Linked DNA regions of Homo sapiens: all the other regions are linked to region 2. The links come from fine-mapping of genetic effects on gene expression. A gene starts in region 2. Each other region holds a variant in brackets. All regions are shown on one strand. Distances are from middle to middle. Region 1 overlaps LOC105373281 (a long non-coding RNA gene). Region 2 holds the start of CAPN2 (calpain 2). Region 3 overlaps LOC105373281 (a long non-coding RNA gene).

What was found. PIP is the estimated chance that this variant, and not a neighbour inherited with it, causes the effect. A credible set is the group of variants that fine-mapping cannot tell apart.
Region 1: its variant is the best candidate, but not a certain one, in a credible set for the expression of CAPN2 in whole blood (INTERVAL, PIP 0.65).
Region 3: its variant is the best candidate, but not a certain one, in a credible set for the expression of CAPN2 in whole blood (TOPMed, PIP 0.50).

The regions. Positions count from the first base shown.
Region 1 is chr1:223,671,002-223,681,189 of GRCh38, forward strand. It overlaps LOC105373281 (a long non-coding RNA gene), which reads right to left. Exons shown (of 3, transcript XR_949164.2): 3 at 6,817-7,081. Among named protein-coding and RNA genes, the nearest start is that of CAPN8, 10 kb to the left of the region's middle. The variant G/T (reference allele first, on the strand shown) is at 5,677.
Region 2 is chr1:223,706,958-223,717,456 of GRCh38, forward strand. CAPN2 (calpain 2) reads left to right here and starts at 5,582. Exons shown (of 21, transcript NM_001748.5): 1 at 5,582-5,920. The coding sequence starts at 5,684. LOC105373281 (a long non-coding RNA gene) reads right to left here and starts at 693. Exons shown (of 3, transcript XR_949164.2): 1 at 411-693. RefSeq lists enhancers at 1-901, 902-1,401, 5,179-5,228, 5,268-6,219 and silencers at 5,329-5,718, 5,929-6,048.
Region 3 is chr1:223,685,146-223,695,644 of GRCh38, forward strand. It overlaps LOC105373281 (a long non-coding RNA gene), which reads right to left. Exons shown (of 3, transcript XR_949164.2): 2 at 5,627-5,683. It also overlaps the pseudogene RNU6-1248P. Among named protein-coding and RNA genes, the nearest start is that of CAPN2, 22 kb to the right of the region's middle. The variant A/C (reference allele first, on the strand shown) is at 5,976.

The sequences.
Region 1 (10,188 bases), 36 kb before region 2:
CTGTGCCTCACTCAGATCTGCAAGCCTCACTCAGATCTGCAAGCCGTCTCTGTGCCAACACTCCACTGGGCAGGGGTCAATGCTCGTAGGAGGATAAAAGGACAAATAGAGGCCAGACGCATTTGTTCAGGCCTGCAATCCCAGCACTTTGGGAGGACAAGGCAGGCAGATGACTTGAGCCCAGCAGTTCCAGACCAGCCTGAGCAACGTGGTGAAACCCCATCTCTATAAAAATTTCAAAAAATTAGCCAGGCATGGTGGCAGGCACCTGTAATACCAGCTACTCAAGAGACTGAGGCAGAAGAATTGCTTGAACCCAGGAGGTGGAGGTTTCAGAGAGCTGAGATCGCGCCACTGCACTCTGGCCTAGGTGACAGAGCAAGACCTTGTCTCAAGAAAAAGAAAAAAGAAAAGAAAAGAAAAAATCGAAAGACAAATAGACACCATGCCTGCCCACAAAGAACTTCCATGCAGTGGAAAGACCAGGCAATGCTCAAAGAAAGAGTGGTTGATTCTGAGGATGATGAGTGATAAGGAGGGCTTCATGGAAGAGGTGGCCTTCCAGTTAGATCTGTAGGATAAGGTGCTTGAAGGATGATGATTTTGAAAGAAGGCAGTGTAAAAAGGGCATTGGAGTCAAGGGGAACAGCAAGAAAATGGCAAGAAGGAACAGCTCTGCACACAGTGCCAACAGAATATTAATTATCTAGAATGAGATCATTCTAGATCACTCACTCCTGGAGTGAGGCAGGAGGCAAACAACAAGAGGAAAAGACACTGGGGGCCTTGAATGCCATCCTAAATGGATGTGGACTTCTTCTCTATAGTTAGGGTGCAGTTGCTCTGAAACAAGCAAGAATCGATGATGGCTTAATTCAGGTAGTGGCACTGGGGCTGGGCAGGTAGGGAGAGGAGTTCCCAAGTTTACCTCCTCTGTGAGTCCCAGAGGCTGGGGATGAGTGTGGAGGAAGGGAAGACACAGCCAGGATACCTCTTGTGATCTTGTGATTTAATAAGAAATAAGTATTTTGGTCTTTGTCCTCAGTTCCTGGCACAAAGCTTCTAAAATCTTTGTAATTTCCTGGGTGATAAATGTGCTAGGAGCATCTTTTGTTGTAATATTTGGTCTTTGACTCTAGTTCCTGACAGAGCTCCTAAATCCCTGGAATTTCCTGGGAATAGAAGAGTCTTTTGTTCTAATAAGGTGACTCTTGTGGGCTCCTGAATGGGGGCTAGTCACAAGAAAGACCAAGCCATGATTAGAAGCTTGGAAAAAGCCAGGCAAGTTGCTTCACAACTGTAATCCCAGAACTTTGAGAGGCCAACGTAAAAGGATCGTTTCAGCCCAGGAGTTCAGCGCCAGCCTGGACAACACAGTGAGATGATATCTGTACTAAAAATAAAAAATAATAAACTAGCTGGACATAGTGGTACACACCTGTAGTCCCAGCTACTCAGGAAACCAAGGCAAGAGGATTGCTTGGGCCCAGGAGATTGAGGCTGTAGCGGGCCATGTTCATGCCACTGTACTCCAGCCTAGGCAACAGAGAGAGACCCTGTCTCAGAAACAAGAAAGAAAGAAAGAAAGAAAGAAAGAAAGAAAGAAAGAAAGAAAGAAAGAAAGAAAGAAAGAAAGAAAGGAGGGAGGGAGGGAGGGAGGGAGGGAGGGAGGGAGGGAGGGAGGAAGGGAGGGCTTGGAACTTTCAGCCCCACTCCCCATCTTCCAGGCAGGGGAGAGGAGCTGGTGACTAGGTTGATAATCCATCATGCCTATGAGATAAAGCCTCCATAAAAATTCCTGAGCTACAAAGACCTAACAACAGAGCTATCATTATATCTGGCAATCCCATTACTGGGTATATACCCAAAGGAATATAAATCATTCTGCCATAAAGATACATGCAAGCAAATGTTTCTTGCAGCACTATTCACAATAGCAAAGACATGGAATCAATCAAAATGCCCATCAATTACAAATTGGATAAAGAAAACGTGGTGCATATACACCCTGAAATACTATGCAGTCAAAAAAAGAACAAGACTATGTCTTTTACTGAAATGTGGATGGAGCTAGAGGCTATTGTCCTTAGCAAACTAATGCAAGAATACCAAATACCACATGTTCTCACTTGTAAGTGGGAGCTAAGTGATGAGAACTCATGAACACAAAGAAGGGAACAACAGACACTGGAGCCTACTTGCAGGTAGAGGGTGGGAGGAGGGAGAGGAACAAAAAAAGAATAACTATTTGGTACTAGGCTTAGTACTTGGGTGATGAAATAATCTGTACAACAAATCCCTATGACAGGAGCTTAGCTATATAACAAACTTGCTGTATTAGTCCATTCTCACACTGCTATAAAGAAATACCTAAAACTGAGTAATTTATAAAGAAAAGTTGTTTAATTGGCTTATGGTTCTGCAGGCTATACAGGCTTCTGCTTCTGAGGAGGCCTCAGAAAACTTACAGTCGTGGTGGAAGACAAAGGTGAAGCAAGCACATCTTACATGGTGGGAGCAGGAGGAAGTGTAGGGGAGGTGCTACACACTTTTAAGATAGCACTAGGGGGATGGTGCTAAACCATTAAACCACCCCCATGATCTGATCACCTCCCACCAGGCCCCTTCTCCAACACTGGGGATTACAAATTGACATGAGATTTGGACGAAGACACAAATCCAAACCATATTCTGTCCCTGGCCTATCCCAAACTTTGTGTCCTTCTCACATTGCAAAATACAATTATCCCATCTCAACAGTCCCCCAAGTTTTAACTCATTTCAGCATTAACTCGAAAGTCCAGTCCAAAGTCTCATCTGAGACAAGACAAGTCCCTTCCACCCATGAGCCTGTAAAATCAAAAACAAGTTAGTTACTTCCAAAATACAATAGGGGTATAGGCATTGGATAATTACTCCCTTTCCAGAAGGGAAAAATTGGCCAAAGCAAAGGAGCTATAGGCCCTATGCAGGTCCAAAACCCAGCAGGGCAGTCATTAAATCTTAAAGCTCTGAAATAATCTCCTTTGACTCTGTGTCTCACATCCAGACCACACTGGTGAAAGGGCTGGGCTCCCAAGGCCTTGGGCAGTTCTGTCCCTGTGGCTCTGCAGGGCTCAGCTCCCATGGCTGTTCTCAAGGGTGTTGAGTGCCTGTGGCTTTTCCAGGTGCACAGTGCAAGCTGTTGGTGGATCTACCATTCTGGGGTCTGGAGGATGGTGGTCTTCGTCTCACAGCCCCACTAGGCAGTGCCCCACTGGAAACTCTGCATGGGGGTTTCAACCCCACATTTCCCTTCTGCACTACCCTAGTAGAGGTTCTCCATGAGGGCTCCACTCCTGCAGCAGACTTCTGCCTAGACATTCGGCCATTTCCATACATCTTCTGAAATCTAGGCAGAGACTCCCAAGCCTTAACTCTTGTCCTCTGCACACCCACAGGCTTAATGCCATGTGGAGGCCACCAATACTTGCAGCTTGCACCCTCTGGAGCAGCTGCCTGAGGCATATCTGGAGCTTGAGCCGCCAGGACACAGGGAGCACTGTCCCGAGGTTGTGCAGGGCAGTGGGGCTCTGGGTCCAGACCACAAAACCATTCTTCTATCCTAGGCCTCTGGGCCTGTGAAGGGAGAGGCTGCCATGAAGTTTGCTGAAATGCCTTCCAGGCATTTTCCCCATTGTCTCAGCTATTAACATTCAGTTCCTCTTTACTTACGCAAATTTCTGCAGCTGGTTTGAATTCCTCTTCTGAAATTTTTTTTTTCTCTACCACATGGCCAGGCTGCAAATTTTCCAAACTTTTATGCTCTGCTTCCCTTTTAAATAAAAGTTCTAGTTTTAGATCATTTATTTCCTTATGCATGTGACTGTAGGTTCTTACAAGCAGCCAAGTCACATCTTGAATGTTTTGCTGCTTAGAAATTTCTCCCTCAAGATACCCTAAATCATCTCTCTCAAGTTCAAGTTCCACAAATGTCTAGAGCAGGGGCATAATGCTGCCAGTCTCTTTGCTAACACATAGGAAGAGTAACCTTACCCCAGTTTCCAATAAGCTCCATCTGAGAGGTCTCCATCTGAGACTTCCTCAGCCTGGACTTCATTGTCCATATCACTATCAGCATTTTGGCCACAACAATTCAACAAGTTTCTAGGAAGCTCCAAACTTTCCCTCATTTTCCTGTCTTCTTCTGAGCCCTCCAAACTCTTCCAACCTCTGCCTATTACCCAGTTTCAAAGTCATTTCCACATTTTCAAGTACCTTTATAGCAATGCTCCACTTCTCTGGTACCAATTTTTTTTATTAGTCCATTCTCACACTGCTATAAAGAAGTACCTGAAACTGGGTAATGTATAAAGAAAGGATGTTTCATTGTCTCACAGTTCTGTAGGCTGTATAGGCTTCTGCTTCTGTCAAGGCCTCAGGAAACTTACAATCACAGCAGAAGGCAAAGGGGAAGCAAGCACATCTTACATAGTGGGAGCAAGAGGAAGGAGGGGTGCCACACACTTTTAAAACAGCACTAGAGGGATGGTGCTAAACCATTAAACTGTTCCTATGATCCAGTCACCTCCCACCAGGCCCCTCCTCCAACACTGGCAATTCCAGTTCAACATGAGATTTGGGTGGGGACACAACTCCAAACCGCAGCACTTGCACATATACCCCTGAACCTAAAATAAAAGTTTAAAAAATAATAATAAAGAAAGAAATCTACACACACACACACACACACACACACACACAGAGAGAGAGAGAGAGAGAGAAAGAGAGAGAGAGAGAGAGAGAAAGAGAGAGAAAGGCAAGGTCACAGCTAAAAAAAAAAAAAAAATCCCTGAGCTACAGAATTCAGAGAGCTTCCAGGCTGCTGAACTCATGGAGGTGCTGGGAGGGTGGTGTGCCCAGAGAAGGCATGGAAGTTCTGCACCCCTTTCCCCATACCTTGCCTGTATTTGTCTGTTCTCATGCTGCTAATAAAGGCATATCTGAGACTGCATAATTTGTAAAGGAAAGAGGTTTAATGGACTCATAGTTCTACATGGCTGGGGAGGCCTCACAATCATGGCAGAAGAGCAAGGAACATCTTACATGGTGGCAGGCAAGAATAGGACATGTGCAGGGGAACTCCTCCTTATAAAACCATCAGATCTCATGAGACTTATTCACTATTAAGAGGATAGCATGGGAAAGACCCACCCTTATGATTCAGTTACCTCCCACAACATGTGGGAATTGTGGGAGTCACAATTCAAGATGAGATTTGAGTAGGGACACAGCCAAGACATGTCATTGCCCTGTGCATCTCTCCCATCTGGCTGTTCCTGAATTGCATCGTTTTATGATAAACCCATAACTTAGTAACTTTTCTCTTTGCTTTCTGTGAACTATTCTAGCAAATTAGTGAACATGAGGAGGAGGTCGTGGGAACCTCCAATTTGTAACCAAGTCAGACAGAAGTTGTGGGTGACCTGGGGACCCACCACTTATGATTGGGCTCTGAAGTGGGGATGGTCTTGTAGGACTGAGCCATTAACTTGTTCTAACTCCAGGCAATTAGTGTCAGAATTGAGTTAAATTGTAGGACACCCAGCTGGTGTTGGAAAATTGTTCAGTGTGGGGGAAAAACCCACACATCTGGTGTCAGAAGCGAAATGTGTTGTGAATAGAGGAAAACAGTGA[G/T]TGCTTCTTATATGCCTCTGAATGCTGGCATTTGACAGAGACCCTAACCTCATCTACCCCAGAAGCTGTAACAGTTCAGGACTCATATTTAGCGTAAATAGGGAGATATTTTGATTTCCTCTGAAAGAAAACTACTAGCTAGAAAAGGGACAGGCTGGGTGCAGTGGCTCATGCCTATAATCCCAGCACTTTGGGAGGCCAAGCCCAGGAGTTCAAGACCAGCCATGGCAACATGGCAAAACTGCTGTCTCTACAAAAAATAAGAAATTCACTGGGTGTGGTGGTACACACCTGTAGTCCCAGCTACTTGGGAAGCTGAGTTGGGAGGATTGCTTGAGCCCAGGAGGTCAAGACTGTAGTGAGCTATGATCATGCCCATAAATAGGCACTGCATTCCAGCCTAGGTGACAGAGTGAGACCCTGTCTCAAATAAATAAATAAATACAATACAATACAATACAATACAATACAATACAATACAATACAATACAATACAATAAAATACAATACAATAGAAAAGAGAGGGCATAAATGTGGAGAGTCCTCTGACCTAGTCTTAGAAAACAAGGCCATGAAGGTAGGAACTGTGTCTCTCTCAAGTTCATCGTGCAACCCTTCACAGAGCTCCACATGCAATATGGGGACTTACGAGTGTACTTTGAGGTTGTTCTTGCTGGGCATGTCACTATATCACATGCTTCCCTGACCTCAGTTCCTGCTGCCAAGCAGCCACAGATGCACCTGCATCAGTTTTCTCTGTCTCTACTGGATCGTTTTCTTTCCCATACAAGTTTGCTATAGTTTCTCCTGCCTTAAAAAAAGAAAATGTTTAATCTCTCTTGACTCCATGCCCCTGTCCTGTTTCTTCTTTTCTTTCTTTTTTTTTTTTTTTTACCTTGAGTCTTGCTCTATCACCCAGGCTGGAGTGCAGTGGCACGATCTCGGCTCACTGCAGCCTCTGCCCCCTGGGTTCCAGCGATTCTCCCGCCTCAGCCTCCTGAGTAGCTGGGATTACAGGCCCATGCCACCATGCCTGGCTAACTTTTGTATTTTTAGTAGAGACGGGGTTTTGCCATGTTGCCCAGGCTGGTCTCGAACTCCTGACCTCAGGTGATTCGCCCGCCTTGGCCTCCTAAAGTGCTGGGATTACAGATGTGAGCCACCATGCCGGGCCTCTTCCTTTCTTTTCACAACAAAATTTCATGAAAGTGGTGTGTATTCTCACTGTCCTTTCATTTCTGTCCTGCCTTTCTCTCTTACCATCCCTCTGGGCAGATGGTCAGGGTAAAACCATTGGCCAATATCCAGGTGGTCTTGATGTTGCTCAATCCAATGGTTAACTCTCAGTCCTCTTCTTAGTTGACCTGTAAGTAGCTGATTGGACTCAGGTCGATGCTCTTTCCACCTAGAAATAGAGAGGGGGATGAATTTCAGGAGGGATGTTTTTGAGTGGCCAAGAGGAAATCAAATCTAGAGCCCAAGGGGAGAGGTTGGCCTTAGGACACAGACAGTTCATCCCTTGTCACAGGGTAGATGGCAGACACAGTGTGAGGATAGATGTCACAGTTGGACCTTGGGAAGTTCTGTTTTCAGTGCTTTGACCTTTCTCTTGGAAATAGGAGTGAAGGGCATTAGCTGAGAGTGAGAATGGGGCAGAGGTGTTGGAGATTTGAGAGAGAGAGAGGAGGTATAAAGTAAGTGATCTGGCCGGGCATGGTGGCTCATGCCTGTAATCTCAGGACTTTGGGAGGCCAAGGCAGGTGGATCACCTGAGATCAAGAGTTTGAGACCAGCCTGACCAACATGGTGAAACCCCATCTCTACTAAAAATACAAAATTAGCCAGGCATGATAGTGCATACCTGTAATCCCAGCTACTTGGAGGGCTGAGGCAGGAGAATCACTTGAACCTGAGAGGTGGAGGTTGCAGTGAGCCAAGATCACACCATTGAACTCCAGCCTGGGCAACAAGAGCGAAACTCTGTCTCAAAAAAATTTTTAAATAAAATAAAATAAGTGATATTGAAAATTGGATAAGAGACATGATGCTGCCAGGTGGCATTAAGGGCCAGTTGAGTTAGTGACTATCAATTTAATGTAAGACAGATCAACACATATATTATTTATTTTTTGCAGATGACAAATTTTCCCAAATTCAGTGGTCTAGAACAGCATATATTTATTATCTTACCATTTCGGTGCATAGGGAATTTGGGAATTTAGCTGTATGGTTCTGACCTCTAAGACTTTCATGAGACACCGACTGCAGCTATAGTCAACTGATGGCTCAGCTGTGGTGGGAGGATCTCCTATCAGGATGGCTCACTCGCATGGCCATGGGCAGGAGGCCTCGGTTCTTCATTACGTAAGTCTCTCCTTAGGCTGTTTCAATGTTATCATGACACGGCAGCTGACTTCCTCCAGAACAAGTGATACAAAAATCAGAGAGGGAACTGCTTTTTACAATCTAGTCTCTGAAGTTGTCTACTCACTTCAGGTTTATTCTATTCATTAGAAGCAAATTGCTATGTCCAGCCCACTCTCAAAAGAGGAATTTACCTCCACCTCTTAAAGTAAGGAATACCAAATAATTTATGGGCATTTTTTTAACTACCATACCTTGATTGTGTGCTTTATTCCAGTCACACTGAGCTGTACAGGCACAGGTCAGGCATGGGGTAGATGGAAAGTTGGATTAAGTAAGTTATGAATATGTGAGAGCAAGAAATCTAAGAACCAGAGCCTTGATGGTGCCAGGCCTCCCAAAATCAGCAGGTGAATTCTGCTGAATGTCGGCTGCACATGGCTCCAGCAGGCTCAGCACCAGAACGGTGGGTCCTTACGCTGCTGCACGCCCATTAGCAAGCTTCAGCTCTGGTCACCTGTCTAATTCAGTCCTGCTGTCCGCTGGCCTCGTTGAACTACTCATTATTTTTTGTTTGTTTGTTTGGAATTGAAGTCTCACTCTGTCGCCCAGGCTGGAGTGCAGTGGCATGATCTCAGCTCACTGCAACCTCCACCTCCAGGGTTCATGTGATTCTCCTGCCTCAGCCTCCCAAGTAGCTGGGATTATAGGCGCCTGCCACCACGTCCAGCTAATTTTTGTATTTTTGGTAGAGACAAGGTTTCACAGTGTTGGTCAGGCTGATCTCGAACTCCTGACCTCAAGTGATCTGCCCACCTGGCTTCCAAAGTGCTGGGATTACAGGCGTGAACCACCGCATCCGGCTGATTACTCATTGTTTTTGCTCCGGCAAAACTTGGACTTCCCCATGGCCTATCATAGCCTCTCCAGCTCCAACTCTGTCTTATGACTTGCCTAATACAGCTCTCACAACTTACTAGCAAATAATCCCTTTGTGTTTCTCTGTCTAAATTGCCAAAAGAGAAAAATCTAATTGGCCCTGGTACCTTCTTAAGCCAGATCACACAGGTCCCATGTCACTGACCAAGCTAAGGGACTGGTTGCTGTGGCACATAACATCAATGCCCACACCCCTTGGAGCCCTGTATGTTTGCAAACTCACAAGCTCTGGTGTGCTTGCAACCCCAGCAGCTAGCCCCTGACTTCCTTGGCCAGAGGGCTGTACCTCTCTCAGCCTATCAGAGCCACCTTGCCAGAAGTGGCTCTCTAACTGGGGACATATGCCCCCTGGGGTGCTTGGTAACATGCTGGAGCACCAACATGATGTTTTCTTGGACTATTCATTCTATTGAAAGTTTTTTTTTTTTTTGAAAGAGGAATTCTTAACTTTTTTTTTCTTTTTTCTTTCTTTTTTTTTTTTTTTTTGAGATGGAGTCCCACTCTGTCACCCAGGCTGGAGTGTAGTGGCACGATCCTGGCTCACTACATCCTCCACCTCCCAGGTTCAAGCGATTCTCCCATTTCAGCCTCCCAATAGCTGGGATTACAGGCACCCGCCACCACGCCTGCCTAATTTTTGTATTTTTAGTAGAGATTGGGGGGGTTCACCGTATTGTTCAGGCTGATCTCGAACTCCTGAGCTAAAGTGATCTGCTTGCCTTGGCCTCCCAAAGTCCTGGGATTATAGGTGTGAACCACTGCACTCGGCCAATTTTTAATATTTTTAATAAGAATTATATACGGGAAGCTGCCAGGCTCTAATTTCAAGGAGTGCATATTAGCTCTTCTCCATGTAAAGGGTCTTTCTCTTTTCCCTGTTTAGTGGAGAAATTTTGAATGTGGAAAATATAACATATGCATACAAATATATGAAATAAAACTCATGAAAAAAAGAAAATATATACACGAAGATCAGAATAGTGGTCTCTTTCACCCTGAAGAGTGGGAAACGAAGTGAGGAAGGAGCATATAGAGAGACGTAAGTTTTAAGTAATTTTTTAGTTCTCGGGTGGGGTGGTGGATACATAGGAATTCATCATACTTTTTGTTTTGTTTTTGAGACAGTCTCAGTGTTGCCTAGGCTGGAGTGCGGTGGTATGATCGTGGCTCACTGCAGCCTTGACCTCTTGAGCTCAACTGATCCTCCCA
Region 2 (10,499 bases):
TAATCCCAGCTACTCAAGAGGCTGAGGCAGGAGAATTGCTTGAACCCGGGAGGCGGAGGTTGCAGTGAGCCGAGATCACGCCACTGCACTCCAGCCTGGGTGACAGAGTGAGACTCCACCTCAAAAAAAAAAAAAAAAAAATCCAGAACCTGCAGATTGTGCCTCTGATGCATCTCAAACATCCAGGGCCAGGGAGAAAATAATCTAAAGAAAAATACTACTGAAAAAGATTCCATTGCCATGGCCCTCTGAGACACACACATTCTTATTCTCTTATTTTCTCTCTCTCTCTCTCTTCTTCTCTCTCTCTCTCTTTCTATCTCTCTCTCTCACTCCCTCTCTCATTTACTCACAAGGTCAGTGGCCCAGACCCAGGCAGTTCTGGATAATCCCAGCTGTTTCTGACTCACCACCATCCTCAGGGCTGGCTGACTCACTCCAGGAAGGTTTTCCACCATGAAGTGTTTGTCTATGTCCTTGTGTTCCCGTGAAAAGGATTGTGTGGTCAGAGAAAGAGAAGACTTTGCTGGGTCAGTGAGATAGCATAGTGTGAGAGGCTTTGGGAAGTAGAAAAAGCAACATTAACTCAGGTTTAAAAACTAGACTTTGTCCAAATGGTTGGGGAAAGTAGTCATTGTATGTGTTTGCAATTAAATTTGGGTGGCATAGGACAGCCTAAAGCCCTTTGTAAGCAGAGCTCTATGTGCGCAGCGATCCCTAGAAGGCTGGCAAGGGGAGTGGCCAGGGCTGCACCAAAGAGGGTGTTGCCTAGCTGGGGAAGAGGAACTTCAGGTGAGCCAGGAGGCTCTTCTGCTCCCAGGCTGTGCAAAGCTTCTGAGTTGACTGGAATGATAGGTCTGATCTGCCCATTTGTTGCTAAAATGACTTAGGAGGGAAATGACCTCCACCTGCCTGGGAGGAGTCACTTCCTCCAGAGATGAGCTGTCCTTGAGGAGATCAGTGGGAGGAGAAGCCTGCGCTCTGCCCCACTGGGCAGAAGGACAAGCTTTCTCCCAAGAGCCTCGAGCCCAGAAGAAGTCGGGGTGGGGCCAATGGAAATCAGACAGTGGAACAAATGAACAGCTTCCAGGACAGGGCTGTCGCTTTCCTCTGTTTTCAATTGTGATGGCTTCATGAAACCCTTGCACCAGAAACCCATGAGCTAGAAATGAATGCCTGTATCCCCATCTCTGGACTCAGAGTCCAGAGTGCCAACCATTACACAATGGAACCTGTGTCCCCGCCTTATTCAAGAGTAAAGAAAGCAAAGCCTGGTGGTGGACGGTGGTACCTGCCCATCAGGCAGCATGCCCAGACTTGCAAACCAGAGATGGAGGATGTCAAATAAAAACAAAACCATGGGAGACTGAGGCAGGAGAATCACTTGAACCGGGAGGCGGAGGTTGCAATGAGCCAAGATCGCGCCATTGCACTCCAGCCCGGGCAACAAGAGTGAAACTCTGTTTAAAAAAAAAAAAAAATCCAGACTTTTATAAAGGGACACTTCAATAGAAAGAAAGACTATTGCAGGCCAGGCGCAGTGGCTCACACCTGTAATCCTAGCACTTTGGGAGGCCAAAGCAGGTGGATCACCTGAGGTCAGGAGTTCAAGACCAGCCTGGCCAACATGAGGAAACCCCGTCTCTACTAAAAATACAAAAAAATTAGCTGCACATGGCGGCTGGTACCTGTAATCCCAGCTACTCAGGAGGCTGAGGCAGGAGAATCACTTGCACCCGGGAGGCGAAGGTTGCAGTGAGTGGAGATTGCACCACTGCACTCCAGCCTGGGCAACAAGAGTGAAACAAGAAAGAAAGAGCGAAAGAGAGAGAGAGAGAGAAAGAGAGAAGGAGAGAAGGAGAGGAAGGGAAGAAGGGAGGGAGAAAGAAAGAAAAAATAGAGAAAAAGAGAAGGAAGGAAGGAAAAGAAAGAAAAGAGAAGAGAAAAGAAAAAAAAAGAGAGAAAGACAATTCCAATTCAGAGAATCTGCAAGCAGCTCAAAATCAAACAGAAAAAGATTCTTCTTTTCTAGGGTAAAGGAGGAGCAAGTGGAGATAAGCAGACTCTTGGGAGGGGAAGCTGGACAAGTGAGGGGAAATGACCAGTGGGAGCTGACAGGAAAAGGGTCTTGCTGTGTTCAGTCAATTCCCAGGAGAAGCTGGGCAGGGAAGTGACTTGGCAGGGACACTCCACTTTGTTTGTGCTTGTTCAGGCTTGGGGGCAAGCAGCATTCAGGGATCTGTAGGAAAGAGAGAAGTCTGACCAAAGTTTTGTCAAGCAAAGGGGGTAAGCAATGGGTGTCAGAGACAAGAATAGATGGGGGCAGAGGAATAATAGTGACAAAAATACTTGCTTTAAGAAAAGGTAACATCATGGCTCTCATATTAGTATAAAATAAACACATTTTAAAGATTCCATTTCGGCAGGGTGCAGTGGCTCACACCTGTAATCCCAGCACTTTGGGAGGCAGAGGTGGGCAGATCACCTGAGGTCAGGAGTTCGAGACCAGCCTAGCCAACGTGGAGAAACCCTGTCCCTACTAAAAATACAAAATTAGCCAGGCATGGTGGCAGGCACCTGTAATCCCAACTACTCGGGAGGCTGAGATAGGAGAATCACTTGAACCTGGGAGGTGGAGGTTGTGGTGAGCCGAAATTGTGCCATTGCACTCCAGCCTGGGCCAACAAGAGTGAAACTCCATCTCAAAAAAAAAAAAGAGTCCATTTAACTTGATTAAACGAGGCAATCTGGTGGATGTTATAACTGGTTCAAAGGAGAAACCAAAGCAGCACAATTTACATGACGTGAAGAGTACTGAAATGGAATATGCAACTAGACAAAAAACTGGTCTCTCTACAGGGGGACTGTAGTGCCTCTACTGGACAGAATGCATTTGCATATCTATAGGAAAAATTATTTTCCATTGCTACAGTTATCTACAACTTAGATTACTTACTTAGAGTTACTTAGGTAACTATACATTGCTACAGTTATATACAACTTAGAGTTATAAAATAACTCAAAAACAATGAAAGGGGCTCGTGTGGTGGCTCACACCTGTAATCCCAACACTTTGGGAAGCTGAGGCAGGCGGATCACCTGAGGTCAGGAATTCGAGACCAGCCTGGCCAACACGGTGAAACCCCATCTCTACAAAAAATATAGAAAATTAGCCAGATGTGGTGGTGTGCACCTGTAATCCCAGCTACGTTGGAGGCTGAGGCAGGAGAATCGCTGGAACCCGGGAGGCAGAAGATGCAGTTAGCTGAGATCGTCAAGATCCTGTCACTGCACTCCAGCCTGGGTGACAGGGTGCTACATCTCAAGAAAAACAAAAACAACAACAACAACAACAAAAACAATGAAAGGCTAGACCCAGATCTTCTGGAAGGAGATGCTCTAAACCAGGGTTTCTCAGCCTCTACATGACTGATGTCTTGGACTAGATCATGTTTTGGGTGGAGAATGTAAACCAAAAATAAAATTCTAAGCCTCCCCCTCCCCTACCCCCGCCAACCATCTAAATGGATGGTTCCTCCTTAGCCGAGGCTCTTAAAATTTTAACCTGAAATTTTCAGGCCATGAAGGAAAGGCAAGGTCGGACATGCTTCATTATACCTCTCCAGCGTGAACATCAACCAGAGTTTAGGTCTGATAAGAAACATTTTACTGCCTGTTCACTCTGAAGCCTGCTAGCTAAAAGCTTCATCTATGTGATAAAACTTTTGTCTCCACAACCTCTTATCGCAACCCAAACATTCCTTTCTATTGATCCTGGGCCTTTAGACAAACTCAACCAATTGTCAACCAGAAAATGTTTAAATATTTACCTATATCCTGGAAGCCACCCCCACTACCCACCCACCACCCCCCGCCACTTTGAGTTGTCCCGCCTTTCTGAACCAAACCAATGTATTTCTTAAATGTACTTGACTGATGGCTCTTGCCTCCCTAACATGTATAAAACCAAGCTGCACCCCAACCACCTCGGGCACATGTCCTCAGGACTTCCTGTGTCACAGGTGTGCATCTTCAACCATGGCAAAAGAAACTTTCTAAATTAAATGAGACCTGTTTCAGATTTTCTGGGTTCACAAGAGCTATCTTGGACATTGGAAGATGTTCAGCGGCATCCCTGGCTTCTACTTAGTAAAGGCCAGTAGCACCTCATCTCCTAGCTGTGACCATAAAAACTATCTCCAGACATTCCCAAATGTCTCCTGGGGTGGGTAGGGGACAAAACTGCCCCCAGTTGAGAACCACTGCTGTAGACCATGCACAGTTTTCCAGTGAAACCCAAATTCTTCCCTACTACTGTAGAGAAGAAGAGGAGGTAATTTCTGCCCATCTGCATTTCTTGGCACGCACCCATGTCTCTGTGTGTGAGATGAGAATCACACCCTAGCTCCACAACAGAGTGGTCACAGTAGCCAACACAGGCAGTATTCTAAATGCTCTCTCCCTATAGTAACCCAACTAATCCTGCCAGTTAAATATGAGTTTCAGGTAAACAATGAATCATATTTTCTTTTAGAATAAGTATGTATGCCCATGCAATATTTGGGCCCTACATATACTTTAAAAGTATCTGTTGTTTATCTGAAATTCAAATTAAACATTTGGGAGGGTTGTTGTTTTATTGGCCAAATCATTTTATTTTATTTTATTTTTGATATGGAGTTTCGCTTTGTCACCCAGGCTGGAGCGCAGTGGCGCGATCTCGTCTCACTGCAACTTCTCCCTCCTGGGTTCAAGCGTTTCTCCTGTCTCAGCCTCCCGAGTAACTGAGATCACAGGTGCCTGCCACGACGTATTTTTAGTAGAGACGGAATTTCACCATGTTGACCAGGCTGGTCTCGAACTCCTGACCCCAGGTGATCCGCCTGCCTCCGGCCTCCCAAAGTGTTGGGATTACAGGTGTGAACTACCGCACCCAGCCTTATTGGCCAAATCTGACAACCCTATCTATAATCAAATAAACAGCTGAGCAGTAGTAATTGCAGCATTGTGATTGCAATAGGCCTCCGGTGGCTTAGAGTCCCTGTTCTGCCTGTGACTGTTGTGCCACATTGGGGACGTCATTTAGCGTCTCCGAGGCTCAGTTTTCTCATCTGTAAAATGGGGACAATATCAGCGCCTTCTTCAGAGTCGCTGGGAGGATTAAATGAGATGATGTATGCAGAGCCGTTAAGACGCTGTTTGGCACAAAGTTCAGGGCAGCTGGTTTAGTTTCCTCGACTTCACTACCTGACCCTCTGCTAACTCCCCGGGTGTTTTCCGGACGGCCACAACTATCCTAGCCTTCTTCCCTATGGGCTGCAAAGGTGGCCTCGGGTTCCGGTGGGAGCCCCAACTCTGGACCGCGATTCGCGAGCCTCCCCGGCGCCGGGCCGCGCCATCCCGGGAGCTGTCCGCAGATGGCAGCACCGGCCCCGGGTCGCGGCGTTCCCGGCGCTCGGCAGGCCGCAGGATGGCCTGGTCCCGGGCCGGGAGCCCAGCAGGCCGGGAGCGGCTGAGGCCACACCCCGCGGGCCGGGCCGCTTCCCTCCGGTGAATCATCGCTCGCAGCGGCGGCGCCCGCAGTGGCCGCAGCAGCGCGCCGGGCCCTGGCCGCGCCCCAGCCGAGCGCAGCGCGGAGTCGCCCCGACCTTTCTCTGCGCAGTACGGCCGCCGGGACCGCAGCATGGCGGGCATCGCGGCCAAGCTGGCGAAGGACCGGGAGGCGGCCGAGGGGCTGGGCTCCCACGACAGGGCCATCAAGTACCTCAACCAGGACTACGAGGCGCTGCGGAACGAGTGCCTGGAGGCCGGGACGCTCTTCCAGGACCCGTCCTTCCCGGCCATCCCCTCGGCCCTGGGCTTCAAGGAGTTGGGGCCCTACTCCAGCAAAACCCGGGGCATCGAGTGGAAGCGCCCCACGGTAGGAAGCGCGCGGCAGGACGCGGGCAGGGCGGGGTGCCGGGCAGGGCGGGGTGCAGGCCGGCCCGCGGCGCGCTGGGGCGGGGGGCAGCCCGGGTGCTGCAGTGGGGAAGCCGCAAGCCAGGACCTCGCAGTCCTGCGACACCTCCGCGCCGCCAGAGCCCGGGACTCTGTTCGAGCGTGGGGGGACTCCCGGGGCCTTCCCTCTCTTCCACCCACCACGCTTTCCTGGGCGGGTCGAGGCGAATCACTGCCCTCAGATCCCACTAGCAGGCCACTTTAGGACTTCACAAAAACTCAGGGTGATGCAGGAGGCCGGGGTGAAACTTTGATTGGACTCTAGCGGGGAGCTGGAAGGGAAGGGGAATCGGGTCTGCAGGGAAGGGACGGTGAGAGGCAGCATCTACCAGACAAAGTCCGTCTCCAACTGGGGTTCTGTCTGTTCATGGAGGGGGACAGGCCATAGCCTGGTCATTTTGTGACTAAGGATAGTCTCCTGCAGCCCTGGGGTTAGATTTATTTTTCCAAAGGGGAGCCAGCGATACCTCCTCATAACATTGACACTGGTAATTAACCCAGGACACGGAGGTGTCTCATGGTTTCCCTGGCGGGAATCACCCGGGAAACCTCCGGGAGCCCTCCAGACCCCCTTATCCCGTCCCCCAGGGTCTCTGACCTCCCGGCCCTGGGACAACTTGTGCTCCCCAATCTACTTGTCCATTCTGTTTCTTGGGGAACCCCTGAGGCTCCTCCTCCTTTGGGACACTTCCCCAGGCTTCCCCTACCACGCCTAGGAAAGCCTGCCCTGAAGTCCAACTTCTAGATTCCTGTTGTGAGAACAAGGCTTCCAGCTCTGCTTCCACACCCAGCAGCCTCCCAGGTCACCTTCTGTTACCCTAAATCCAGCCCATAGGTAGCAAGGGCTGCAGGAAGCGCCCTAGCCCAGACTCAGAGCACTTGGGTTCTTCTTCTTGCTAACCTGCTGGTGACCTTGAACGAGCCATTTAACCTCTCTGTGCCTCCATGTCTTCATCTAAAAGAAAACATGCTGCCTAAATATTTTCTCTCTTTTGTGGCCCACTAGGCCCTGCCGTCATGGCCTCCTTTCAGTCTCTCAAAGAGCCGGTTCTTTCCTGCATGAGGCCTTCTCACCAGCAAGGCACGCTGTTACCTGGAGTGTGGCTCACTCTCATTCTTCCCAACTTAGTCACATGTTCCCTTCCTAAAGAGGTCTTTTCTGACCCTTCTTAGCAGCCACCTCCCCACCTTGTTTTTCTCTGTCACCCCACTCATTTCCTTCATAGCATTGTCACAGTTTAGAATATAATCACATGTATTTGTTCTTCCTACTGAACTGCAGGAATCATGTGTATATTATTTACCAGTATATCCCCAGTGCCTGACACATAACCATGCCTTTCACAGTATTCATTCATTCATTCATTCATTCATTTACTCACTCATTTGACAACACTGATTGAGCACCTGTTACATGCCAGGCACTGTCCTGAGAGCTCAGGAGATACACCAGTGAACACAAAAGAAGTGACTGTTTGTAGAATATGGATGCAGGATTGTAATGTGCCTCAAATGAAATTATGGTTGTGAAAGTGATACGCTGACCTGACTCAGTGCCTCACACCTGTAATCCCAGCACTATGGGAGGCCAAGGTGGGAGGATCGCTTGAGCCAGGAGTTCAAGACCAGCCTGGGCAACACAGTAAGACTTGTCTCTATAAAAAAGTAAAAAAAAAAAAAAAAAAAGTGAAACACAAACCAAGAGAATGTGTTCACTTTACATTTGCATGGCACTTTACAGTTTACATAGTGAGTTCACATACTCATTCACTTATTCTTTCATTCATTCAGTAAGCATTTCTCGAATACCTACTATATGCTGGGCACAATGCATATGGTTTCTGCTTCTGAAGACTTACTTCTGAGGCTAGTGAGGGGACAGAGACAGGTCCCCCAACAGTTGGAAATGCCTGTGGGACTTCCAGATGAGGATGTAGAGGTCTAGAGATGATCTAGCGCCACTGCTTAGGGCAGGCGGGCTGTGCACTGCACAACTAAGGAAGAGTGTGACTTTTACGATCCCCATTTGCCAGTTGAAGAAATTGAGGCTTGGGAAGGTTAAATACTTGCTCAGAGTCAAGTGGATATAGGGCATAGATCCAGGACTGTGTGTAGTCTGTGCATGTTGAGCCTACCCCTTATGGCTGCGCTCTCTGCCTCCTTCCTACCTTCTCAAATGCTGCTGAGGTCAGGCAAGGGGAGCACAGTTGTTTCCGCTGGATTTGAACACTAGCAAGTCATTGGTGAGTTTAGCAGAGCAATTTCAATGGAAAGGTGAGAGTAGAAGCCAGATTGTTGTAGACTCCAGAGTAAAGGAACTGGAAATTAAGAACATGATCAACTTATTTAAGAAGGACCCCCGGGAAGAGAGGAGAACTGATAGGTAGAGTAGGACCTGGACTTTGAGAGCCTGTGTTTTTTTCATATGAGAACAACTTGAATGTGTCATATGTTGAATCACCAGGAAGAAGGGATTAAAGATAAAGGCAGGGAGGGGGCAGTGAAACAGGATCCCTGAGGAAGTGAGAATACGGGTTGTGGGCAGGGGAGGGGAGCAGGTTAGCCTTGCAGCAGGAGGAGCTGCTCTTCCTCGGAGAGAGGATTTCACAACACTGGCAAGAGTGGCTCCAGTGCCTGGAGCGGGGATTAAAGCAGTAAGTCCAGTGGGGTCCAAGGGCCATGCAGGGGTACAGTGAGGAGAAAGCAGGTGTGATCCGGGTGGCACATCAGATCCTTCCAGCAACCAGTCTGTTAGGAGCAAGGGCAGATGTTGTGAGCCCCTATGTTTCCCCCAAGAAAATCAAACCTCTGAGAGGTTTCTCACTTGCTTATCTTCAGCTGGCCGAACTCAGCCTCAAACCCATATGTCCTGTCTCCAAGTTCAGTGACTGTTATCATCAACTTCTTCAACAGTAATAATAATAGATCACATTTATGGAGTGCTTGCCAGGGCATGTTTACATCATTATCTCATTTAACACTCAGAACAATCCTCTGTGGTGGGTGTTTTCATCGTTCCCATTTTGCAGGTGAAAAAACTGAGACTTCAAAAGGTTAAGTGACTTCCCAGGGTCCTACGACCTACATAATAAGTGGCAGAGCCAGGATTCAAACCTAGGTTATCAGAATAATGCAGCAAAGCCCAAACCCTCAGCCCCTTTTCACTGACTGGTAAGACCCATATTTAATTCGATGCCCTACATGCCGTGCACAAGTTTCAGTTTTCTGAAGCATCGCTTAGATGCTTAGGTGTTTAGCACCACTCTGAACTCTGACTTTTCTAGAGAGGCTGCTAAAGGCATTAGAAAGTTTCTGAAGTATAATGGAAAAACCCTGCTGGAGTAAGTGCCTGGCACACTCAGGATTATCAGTGTGATTCTTTATAATAAACAGGCTCCCAGCACCAAGCCCAATCTATTCCATCAGCTGGATAAGAGCTCTCTGGCAGGCCTTGGGCCAAGCTGGCTTCCTTTGCCTCAGCAGAAGAGCATTCTGATTCTCTCTGCCATCCCCAAAACTGACAGGAGCAGAGAGAAACAAGGCAGAGGCATGAAGGGAATGTCCTCTGCGGCAGATGGTGCTTCCGGAAGAGCTCCCACAATCTGAGCTAGAATGAACAGGGGCTAGATCCAAGTCTCATATAGGCATACTTCTGCTTGACAGAGTGGGCATGCCGAGGGCCGTTGGGTGGAGGCAGGCGTGTGCAACCCAAGCAGACATGAGACGCAGCTCCTTCAAGGCAAGGTTGCCTGAGCCCAGAGAGGCTCAAATTTGTGCCCCAACTTCCTCTGTGGCTTTTGGGTGGGGCTCTTCAGAATCGAAACACACTCAGAGGGCTGCTGAAAGGGCTAAGAAGTGTTCAAGGTTGGCTTCCATCAGGCTGCTCATGACAATGGCCCCTGAGGTTTTAACACCCTTGAACGCTTGGTACTAAATCAATTAGAGGCAGGGCAGGAGCAGAAAGAGTTGGCGCATTTGATCAGTAAGTTCCAATGCCAGTGCTGTCTATTATCTGTGAACTGTGTTAACTTTGGACACGTCACTTCACCTTTTTGAGCTGTTTCCTCGTCTGTAAAAGGGGGATAATACCCATTCCATGAGGTAAAGCTTTGAGCACAGTCTCTGATGTAAGCAGGTACAGAATATATAGATGCTGTAAGTTTCATGGTCCCATGGAAGAATTCAAAAGGGTTAGATCCCGCCTGCCCTCAAAAGGGTATGTGTTAGGAAATCAGAGTAATACCTAAGTAGTAAATTGCAGAGTCCAGAGACTCTGGGACTCAGACTTGAAGGGATGAGTGAGGATTGGACTAGGACGACTTCACGGAGGAGGTGACAATGAGCCTCAAGGTATGATGCAATATGGAAAAGGAGGGAAGAGAGTGGGAAAGGAAGGAATTTCATGCAAGCAAAACAACTTGCATGCAGTAACAGAGGAGAGAGGATGCTAACCCAGTGGATAGGGTGGCTCTAGAGTGTGGATGGTCTCCACGTCTGGCAGA
Region 3 (10,499 bases), 22 kb before region 2:
AAGCAACAAAGGGACATAGCTTAACTATAAAGATATAGAAAAGTTAAAAATAAAAGTACAGAAAGAAATGCATGCAAACACCAAAAGAAAGATGATATAGCTATATAATATCAGAAAAAGAACACCCTGAGGCAAGAAGCATTATTAGCGATAAAGAGAAACATTTCATAATCATGAAAGATCAATTCACTGGGAAGATGTAGTAAAACTGTATACTTATAACAACATAGCCACGAAATATGTACAATAAAAATTGGCAAGACAAAAAGGAAAATATGCAATCTTAATATGAGATATTAATACAATACTCTTAGTAACGGATAGAACAAGCAGACAAAAATACCAATAAGGATATAGAAGATTTGAATAACACAATTAACAAACTTAGCCTCCTTAGCATATGTAGAATACTGCACCAAACAGCAGCAAAGTCCGTGTTCTTTTCAAATGCACATGGAGTATTTACCAAAATTGGCCACCACACACCCCACAGTCCTGGTGGCATGGGCACATTTTGTGCATAGTTGATTGATATGGGAGACTGTACCTGACCCAACATGGGTCAATGAGTTTTTTCCCTAGATTTTTGGACTTGAATCTGATGGTTGAAGCTGTGAAAAATAAAGTTTGGGCACTTTTCCTCCCACCTTGAAAAGGGGATCCCAATGTTATCTGAGTCTCTGTTTAGGTTATTCCTGAGGCATGCGTATTCTACCTTGGTTTTACAATGACATTCCAGAATCTTTAGCATGCATTTACTTTGGACTTTTTTTTACCGTGATAAAATATATATAACATAAAATGTACTAGGTTTAGCATTTAAGTGTACAGTGCAGTGGCACTAAGTACATTCGCATTGTTATGCAACCATCACACCATCCATCTCCAAAACCGCAGGTTTCATCTTTTCATCTTCCAAGACTGCAGCTTTATCTCCATTGAGCACCAACTCCACATTTCCCACTCCTTGTATCCTCTAGCAACCATCATTCTACTCCTAGACTACTTTGTGACTCAGTTTCTCTGTCACTTAAGAGAAGAGAGGCTCCATTGCTGACTGCAGGGATTGCTTCTGTATATGCAGGCCTTCTTGCATCTATAGGATTAGGTTTACTGCAGGGAAAAAAGGTAAGAGAAATATACATCATATGGGTTTTTGGAGGAAGAAAAGAGGCGACAGCACAAAATGGATGAGGTTTTCGTGTTGGGTGTCCTGCACACAGGACTCAGCAGCCCTGCCATGTATCTATCTGCCCAACTCTTTCCCATGGAGTTCATCTTGTGGGCCACTTCCAAATTATAGATCCACAGGCAAGTTTCACAGCTCTGTCGCTGTCACCTGTGGCAAGCTTCTCATAGTGCCTCTGTGGCTTAATGTCATGAGCCCCTCCATTGTGAGCATTCTGTTTAGGGTCCTGCACCATCACAGCCTGGCAATGAGCTTCAGATGTTTTGCCATAACCTTAGATTTAAGTCATCAAGCAGCAGGACCAAGACCTATCATGCATTTACTTTTGTTTTTGGCTTAATTTGAGTTGGTTTTTTTCCTTGTACAAAAAGAATCTCTGTACACAGACTCCTATTAATTTTTTTAATTAATAGTTTTATTTTTCAGAGCAGTTTTAGCTTTACAAAAAATTGAGAAGAAAGTAAGATGTTCACACACACACAGCTTCCCAATTATTAATGTCTCACACTAGTGAGGTACATTTGTTAAAATCGATGAACCTATGTTGACATGTCATTATCACTGTAGTTTACTTTAGGGTTCCCTCTTAGTATGGTATATTTTATGGGTTTTGACAAATATATGATAATATGTATCCACCATTATAGTATCAGACAGAGTATTTTCACTGCCCTAAAAATCCTCTGTGCTTTGCCTGTTCATCTACCCCTCACCAAACACCCAGAAATCTTTTTTTTTTACTGTCTCCATTGCTCTGCCTTTTCCAGAATGTCATATATTTGGAATTATATGTTATGTAGCCTTTTCAGACGGACTAGTGATATGGTTTGGCTGTGTCCCCACCCAAATCTCATCTTGAATTGTAGCTCCCACAATTCCCACATGTTGTGGGAGGGACCCGGTGGGAGGTAATTGAATCATGGGGAAAAATGATTTGAGCATCTATCATCACAAACAACCCCATTCTATCTCTAATAATGACTTTTGCGGGTCTTTGCAGTGCTGTTCTCATGATAGTGAATCAGTCTCACAAGATCTAATGGTTTTAAAAATGGGAGTTTCCCCGCACAAGGTCTCTCTTGTCTGCTGCCATATAAGATGTGCCTTCACCTTCTGCAATGATTGTGAGGCCTCCCCAGCCATGTGAAACTGTGAGTCAATTAAACCTCTTTTTCTTTATAAATTACCCACTCTCAGACATGTCTTTTTCAGCAGCATGAAAATGGACTAATACAACTTATTTCACTTAGTAATATGTATTTAAGTTTCTTCAATGTCCTTTCATAACTTGATGGCTCCTTCCTTTCTTGCTTTCTTTTTTTTAATTTTAACTATACAATAAAGCACTAAGCTAAAGAAATTAAACTATGGAATATCTATCTGCTGGCTGGTGGGGAAAATGTGAGGAGCCTGGAGCTTCCTGGAAACACACAATTTCCTCCACAATCTTCGCTGACCTTCCCTTGAGTTATCCCTCTTCCTTTTTAACATTCCTCTTGATTTGAGCCTCTATCATCACAAACAACCTCATTCTAACTCTAATAATGATTTTTGCCTTAAAGTATTATGTCTGATTTTAATATAGTTATGCCAGCTTCCTTCTCATACTGTTCACATAGTATATCTTTTTCCATCATTTTATTTTCAACCTTTCTATATCTGTATCTTTATGCATCATTCTGTTAATATATATCAATCCATCAGTGACTGATTCTCTGATTCCCTAATGTTTAAGCAATTTCCTTTTTTTTTTTTTTTTCTTTTTGAGACAGGGTCTTGCTCTGTCACCCAGGCTGGAGTGCAGTGGCACGATGATGTCTCACTGCAGCCTGAACGTCCCAGGCTCAAGTGATCCTCCCACCTCAGCCTCCCAAGTAGCTGGGATTACAGGCACACATTACCATACCAGGTTAATTTTTTTTTAATTTTTTGTATAGACAGAGTCTCACTATGTTGCCCAGCTGGTCTCAAACTCCTGGCCTCAAGCGATCCTCCCACCTTCACCTCAAAGTGCTGGAATTACAGGCGTGAGTCACCACACGAGGTCAATCTACTATTCTTGACCTCAGCTATTGGCTGTGATATATTATCATATATAGAGAGCTGGATTTGGTTTGCTACTGTTTTCTTCAGAAGAGAAAGCAGGATGTTGCTCAGCCTGGGAGGGTCATGCCCTTGGTTGAGTTAGCTCTCTGCAACTGAAACAAACTCTAAAGGATTTGAGACCTGGAAACTTTCTGCTAATCCCACCTCCCAAAGTTGGGGCAGTTCACATCCAATGACTGATAGAAGTAAGGTATAAAGACACAGACATTTTGGCTTAATCTAGCATCTCTGATGGGCCGTGTATGGTCCAGAACATCCCATAGGAATGGCCAAAGCTTTGTCACAATTGCATCACATTTTGACTTTTCCCTCTGCCCAAGACTGCTTCCTCCTCCTCTCATCCACGGATGTTGATTCCTAATAAATACTCTGTACACCAAGCACAGTCTCGGCATCTACTCCTGGAAAACCAGCAACAAGGTCAGCAGGGCTAGCTAGCTTCATGGGCAGCAACCTATGCAGTCATAAGGGCCCTGCTCCAAGAGGGGCCCCATGCTTAGGTTAATACTCTTGTCAACTAACGAGTGGTGAGGTTCATAAATTTTGAAATAAGAGGTTTATTTCTCATGAAGTGTTGCAATCTGCAAGGTGGCCATTCCTACAGGCTGGGAAGTGTAGCCTGTGACAGAAGTCAGAAGCAGGTACTTCGAGGCAGGGATGGATAAAACAGGAATGTATAATGAATGGCTTGGCTAAGTATACATATTTAGTACACAATAGGAGGAGTCATGAATATTTATGAAAAGAGAAACATGTGCATGTGCAATTGGGCTTCATGCCTCTTTATGCGTCACATGTTCAAAAAATGATGATGCTTGCATGATCCAAGGGTGGAGTTTTTGGCCCTCTGACATCAAAAGGTGAAACAGAGAACACAAAAACCATCAACGTGCATCTTCTGCAAACTGCTGAGAACCACTCTGTGGTCAGTGATCTCTTACCAGGAAGGAATGCTGGTTAGTTGCTGTGTTAAAACCACAAAAAGGCCAGGCACGGTGGCTCACACCTGTAATCCCAGCACTTTGGGAGGCTGAGGCAGGTGAATCACGAGGTCAGGAGATCTTCAAAACCATCCTGGCTAACACGGTGAAACCCCGTCTCTACTAAAAATACAAAAAAAATTAGCCGGGCTTGGTGGCGGGCGCCTGTAGTCCCAGCTACTCAGGAGGCTGAGGTAGGAGAATGGCGTGAACCCAGGAGATGGAGCTTGCAGTGAGCCAAGATCACGCCACTGCACTCCAGCCTGGACAACAGAGCGAGACTCCGTCTCAAAAAAAAAAAAAAAAAAAAAAAAACCACAAAAAGGAAGGGGGAGTCCAGTCATGGCCTCAGATGACTGGCTAAAGGCAATGAAGTAGAGTCATCTGTATCTTGTTCCCCAGGGCTGATTTCCGTGTACTCCTTAGGAAAAATTTCTGGTTAAAGATGAATAAGGATAGGGCATATTGAGGTGTATCTGACCTCCCATCCCCTTATGGCTGGGAACTCAGTTTTTAAGGTTCCTCTGGGGTCCACTTGGCTGAGAGGCACTCCATTCAGTCGGTTGGGAGGCTTAGGATTTTATTTTTATTTCTTACTCTGCTGTCATCATCTTGAAAATATAAATTTTGGTGCTCACTTCAGCAGCACATATACTAAAATTGGAATGATACAGAGAAGATTAGCATAGCCCCTTTTTAAAAAAAAAATATATATATATATAAATTTTGATGGCTTTAGAAATGATTTGCAGAGAAGTGAGTCAGAAAAATCTTATGACCAATCAAGATTTCACATTAATAAAGTATTATTATCCATTGTATTATATAAATTGGTGAAACAAAAAATGGTACATTTTTGCAATTTGTAGGTTTAGTCATTACTCATATATCACTATTATCCCTATTACATTTTATAAAAATTGTTTTTTTAAAAAAAAGCTTTATATTTTAGGGGTTTGTTCGTTTGTTTGTTTTGAGACAGAGTCTCACTCTGTTGCCCAGGATGGAGTGCAGTGGCACGATCTTGGCTCACTTCAATCCCCACCTCCCAGGTTCAAGCGATTCTTGCCTCCCAAGTAGCTGAGAATACAGGCGCCCCACCACCGTGCCCGGCTAATTTTTGTCTTTTTAGTAGAGACAGGGTTTCACCATGTTGGCCAGGCTGGTCTTGAACTCCTGACCTCAAGTGATCCGCCCACCTTAGCCTCCCAAAGTGCTGGGATTACAGGCGTGAGCCACCGCACAGGCTTTATATTTTAGTATTTTAATTACAGTTTTTTTCCTGCATTTTTAACAAGATAAGCACATTTTCATTTTGCACCCAGCGCTATAAATTATGCAAATTACATACCCAGCAGGGAGGATAGGTTCCTGTGAAGATGATTGTCCCTGGTTGTCCTGTAGGAGTCTAGGAGAGAAGAGTGACACTTTAAGCTATTATCTGTTATTTGCAACTTCATGTGACTGACTTTCAGATACTTTGATGAAAGAAGACTTTTAAATGTGTGAAAAAGATCTCCTCAGGGCACTGCATACAAGGAAAACAGGGAGACTACCATCAAGGTGGGAAAGGGTGATACAACAGGGCCAGGGACCTGATGATAAACTCCAGATTTCACCAAGAGTTAGGCTTTGTTAGAATCCTGTTCCTAACAGGACACAAATCACACAGCGAACTATTAAAAATGAGAGCAAAGCAC[A/C]CAGCACAACTATTAAAAACTAAAAATTAAGCTGTCATTTATATGAGTCATTAACAAAACTCCCTTATCACCAGAAGTATGCTAACACCATATATAAAATTGAACATGTGGGGACATCATTCAACCTCTTGTTTAAAACTGGCTTTGAATGGCCCAACTCTAGAGAATTAGAATGCTTTTTATTATCTGGGGTCCTCTGGAGAGAGATCAACTTCTCAGAGTTCTAAATAGAGAAAATTATCTGGAGTTAATTAAAGTACGCCAATACTGTCATTTTCCACGTGGGGTGGAAAGAACTAATGTGTAGTTAGGATATCAGCAAAAGGCTAGTAGAAACACGAAGTCACTGGTAAATTGAATGCACAACTCCTGGGAAGTGATCAAAACGCAACTGTTTTGTATATTCTGCTACTTGTCTGTTTGTTATTTCTATTATATGTCTATGGCCACCTATACAAAAAGTGAGGGCCCTATTTTCATGTGAAAGGAACCGCCACAGTTAGAAACACTCTAACAAAGGGTAGTGGAGTAAACCAAGCCACTCCTGTTCTAAACAGATTTTAGATTCAGAAAGAATCGCTCTCTCTTTTTTTTTTTTTTTTTTTTTTTTTTTTTTTTGGAGAGATAGGATCTAGCTATGTTGGTCAGGTTGGTCTTAAACTCCTGGCCTCAGGCAATCCTTCCTTGGCTCCCAAAGTACTAGGATTATAGGCGTGAGCCACCACGTGCCCAGCCAGATTCAAAAAGAATCTATTGAATAGGGGGGAAACTAAGTAATTCAAGAGACTTTGTCTATAGCATTTTGACTATATCTTCTCAGTAAGGACAAAACGAACTATAAACAAACATTGAACCCTAACCTAGTTGGTAGTTGTAATTTTCATGGTAGTATGGGTTTGTGATTCTAAAACTACTTTCTGTGTATTCTTGAATTAAATAAATAAATAAATATATTCAGAAGGATGAAAGCAATATCTCTCACTGTTGGAGAAGAGAATTACAAATATGGAAAGAGGGAAGGTTAAAATAAATCACATTGTGGTCATTTGGAATTGGAGGCCAATTTAAATTCAAGTGGCAGGGTATAATTTTTTTTTTTTTTTAGATAGTCTCTGTCACCCAGGCTGGAGTGCAGTGGTGCAACCTCAGGTCACTGCAACCTCCACCTCCCGGGTTCATGCAATTCTCCTGCCTCAGCCTCCTGAGTAGCTGGGACTACAGGCATGTGCCACCATGCCCAACTAATTTTTTGTATTTTTAATAGAGATGGGGTTTCACCATGTTGGCCAGGCTGGTCTCGAACTCCTGGCCTCAAATGATTCACCCACCTGGACCTCCCAAAGTGCTAGGATTACAAGTGTGAGCCACCACACCCAGCTGGGTATAATTTTTTTTTTTTTTTTTTTGAGACAGTTTCGCTCTTGCTGCCCAGGCTAGAGAGTGCAATGGCACGATCTCGGCTCACTGCAACCTCCACCTCCGGGGTTCAAGCAATTCTCCTGCCTCAGCCTCCCAAGTAGATGGGATTATAGGCACCTGCCACCACGCCTGGCTAATTTTTGTATTTTTAGTAGAGACAAGGTTTCACCATGCTGGTCAGGCTGGTCTCAAACTCCTGACCTCAGGTGGTCCACCCACCTTGGCCTCCCAAAGTGCTGGGATTAAAGGAGAGGCTCTGCACCAGCGTGGGTATAATTTTTTATGAGTTAAAATTGTATTTTATTTATTTACATTTATAAAGAGAGCATTATGTTTAGATTTATGTACCTGGTTTTTTAAAAACTCGTTTACCTAATTAATGAGAGAATGAGTGGGATGGTAAAGTTGGTTTCAAGAGAACTTGAGAGATTAAGTATTATAGGCACTGAATAAAAGATGTTAAAATAGAATTTTGGGGTGGTATACAAAACTGGTTAATGTTATACAGGGCAAGAAGACTATAACCTTTGGGATTTAGGGTTTTTGTTTATTTGTTTGGTTTTTATTTTTTATTTTAGCTTTTGTTGTTTTATTTTTTTTCCCTGAATGAAATTATTAGTAGCTATACTAGACAAAAATCTACATGCTAGTATGTAACGTTATGGTCTTGGCCCCATTCAATAGTGAATAACAAATCAAATCAAGGTACATTCTCCTAAAGAATAAGAAAATTCATCCTGGCATGGTGGCTCACACCTGTAATCTCAGCACTTTGGGAGGCCTAGGTGAGCAGATCACCTGAGGTCAGGAGTTCGAGACCTGACCTGGCCAACATGATGAAACCCCATCTCTACTAAAAATACAAGAATTACCCGGGCATGGTGGCAGGCACCTGAAATCCCAGCTACTTGGGAGGCTGAGGCAGGAGAATCGCTGGAACCTGGGAGGCAGAGGTTGCGGTGAGCCGAGATCTTGCCACTGCACTCCAGCCTGGAGACTCTGCCAAAAAAAAAAAAAAGAATAAGAAAATTCTTGGCTGGGCCTGTTAGCTAGAGAGTGGACAGAGTGTCCTCTAATACAGAGAACAGAGATCTGTCTGCCTTGAGGCAATAGAAGCAATTCCAGTAGCACTAAGCACCCAGATCTTGGTTTCTAAATACTATTCCTCACTAAAAAGAAAAAGAAGAAAAAAAAAAGGCTCCTTGAAGAAATGCTTAATTTCCCCCCACAAAAAAAGAAATGTTTAATTCCAGAACTAGGGCAGAAAAATTATAAGTGGAATCTGGAATAGCTTCATGTTCCAGGAAGTAAGGGGGTGCTCGAAGAATGATGAGGACACGGCAGAAGGGCACAGGAGCTGTCCTGAAGGGACTCTCCCTGGCAAAATCTGGGGCAATTTGAGCATCAAAATAAATAATAATAGTAATGCATTTAATCCATTGAGTAATATAGGAACCTATCTGCCCTTATTTATGTAAATAACTGGGAGATAATGGAAAACTCTTCCTAGCAGTCGTATACCAGCCAATAAAGGAAGAGGAAATATTATAATTTTTAAAAACACTATTTTATAATAATCATAGTAGTGGTTGGTTCAGGCAATGAATGTAAAACTAGTAGGTAAAAGTTTGTTGAGGAACAGAATATGTATATGGTCTCAAAGTAGTTCCCAAAAAATAATTGATTAATTTCAAAGGTATTTTAAAAATAGTAATTTTACAATGAAGAAAATGACAGCCACCACCTTCACTAAATTCTCGAAATTATCATCATCAGAAATGGGGCAAATCGATATCATGTGCCTCCTGATGTAATGTCCTGAGAAAGACATATCACTTTTATGATATTATTGCCAAAAATGCATAACTTCAATCTATTCATAAAGAAACATCAGACAAATCCAAATTGAGAGGCATTCTACAAACTAACTAGAGTGTGTTCTTCAAAAATGTCAAGGTCACAAATGACAAAATAAGGCTGAGGAACTGCCCTAGATTAAAGAATACTAAAGAGGCATAATGACTAAAGGCATTTCATGATCCTGTATTGGATCATTTACCTGAGAAAAAAATTATGAAGGTTATAAAAGATATTATTGGGACAATTGATGATATTTGAATATCAATTAGATTAAATAATAGCAATATGCCAGTGTTAAATATTCTGACTTTCATACACCCTGAAGTACTTAGGAGTAAATGGGCACAATGTCTGCAACTGATTCTCAAGTGGTTCAGAAAAAATATACACACACAGGCACACAGCACATATATGCATATGTAATGGGGATATAATGCTATGTATATGCATATAATGGTGTGTATGTAGATGGATGGATGGATGGATGGTAGAATAATAAAGCAAAAATGAAGCAAAAGGTAAATAATTGGTGAATCTGGGTAAAAAATATGCAGGAGGGGTTTGGACTAGTCTTGCAATTTTTCCATAATTTTTGATAAAGCTGAAGTTTATTTTTTTAAAAATCCTCCAAAAGACCCCCCAAAAGATTGGTGTCAACCTCCATCATATCAGTTCAGGGTGTGTAGTCTTAGGCAGACTGGTTTGGCCACACTTCCCGATCAACTAACAGGGAACAAGTGAGATGAGGCTAACGAGGCACCATCCTCCCCTTTGGATCATAGGCAGAAAGGACCAGAGTGGCAGGCGGCCCTCCAGCACATGAGGCTCATTTCTCAGTGGAATGGCCAGGGACAGCCCCAAGCCACAACAGACTCACCCCCACATACACACTAATACCTGTGGAGGGGAAGCCTGGTCTCCTCTGGCCCCTGGCACTCTCTATCCGGAGGCCCTGCTATCTAAGATGTGTTCTTAGTCACAGTGCTATGAACCTCGGACTTCTTGCAGGAGAACAGGGAGAAGAGGCCTCAGAACATTAGTTTGCAGCTGCAGCTCCCTCTCCTGCATGTTTTCATGAAGGAAAATACCGTTAGACATTAAACACCCAACGTTCAAAATCTTAGACACGAAGTTGGGAGAAAAGGGAATTAGTACTCATCAGATTTTTTGCTGAAAAATGAGAGATAGTTTTAGGGGGCGGGCCCAGTGGCTCACACATGTAATTCCAGCACTTTGGGAAGCCAA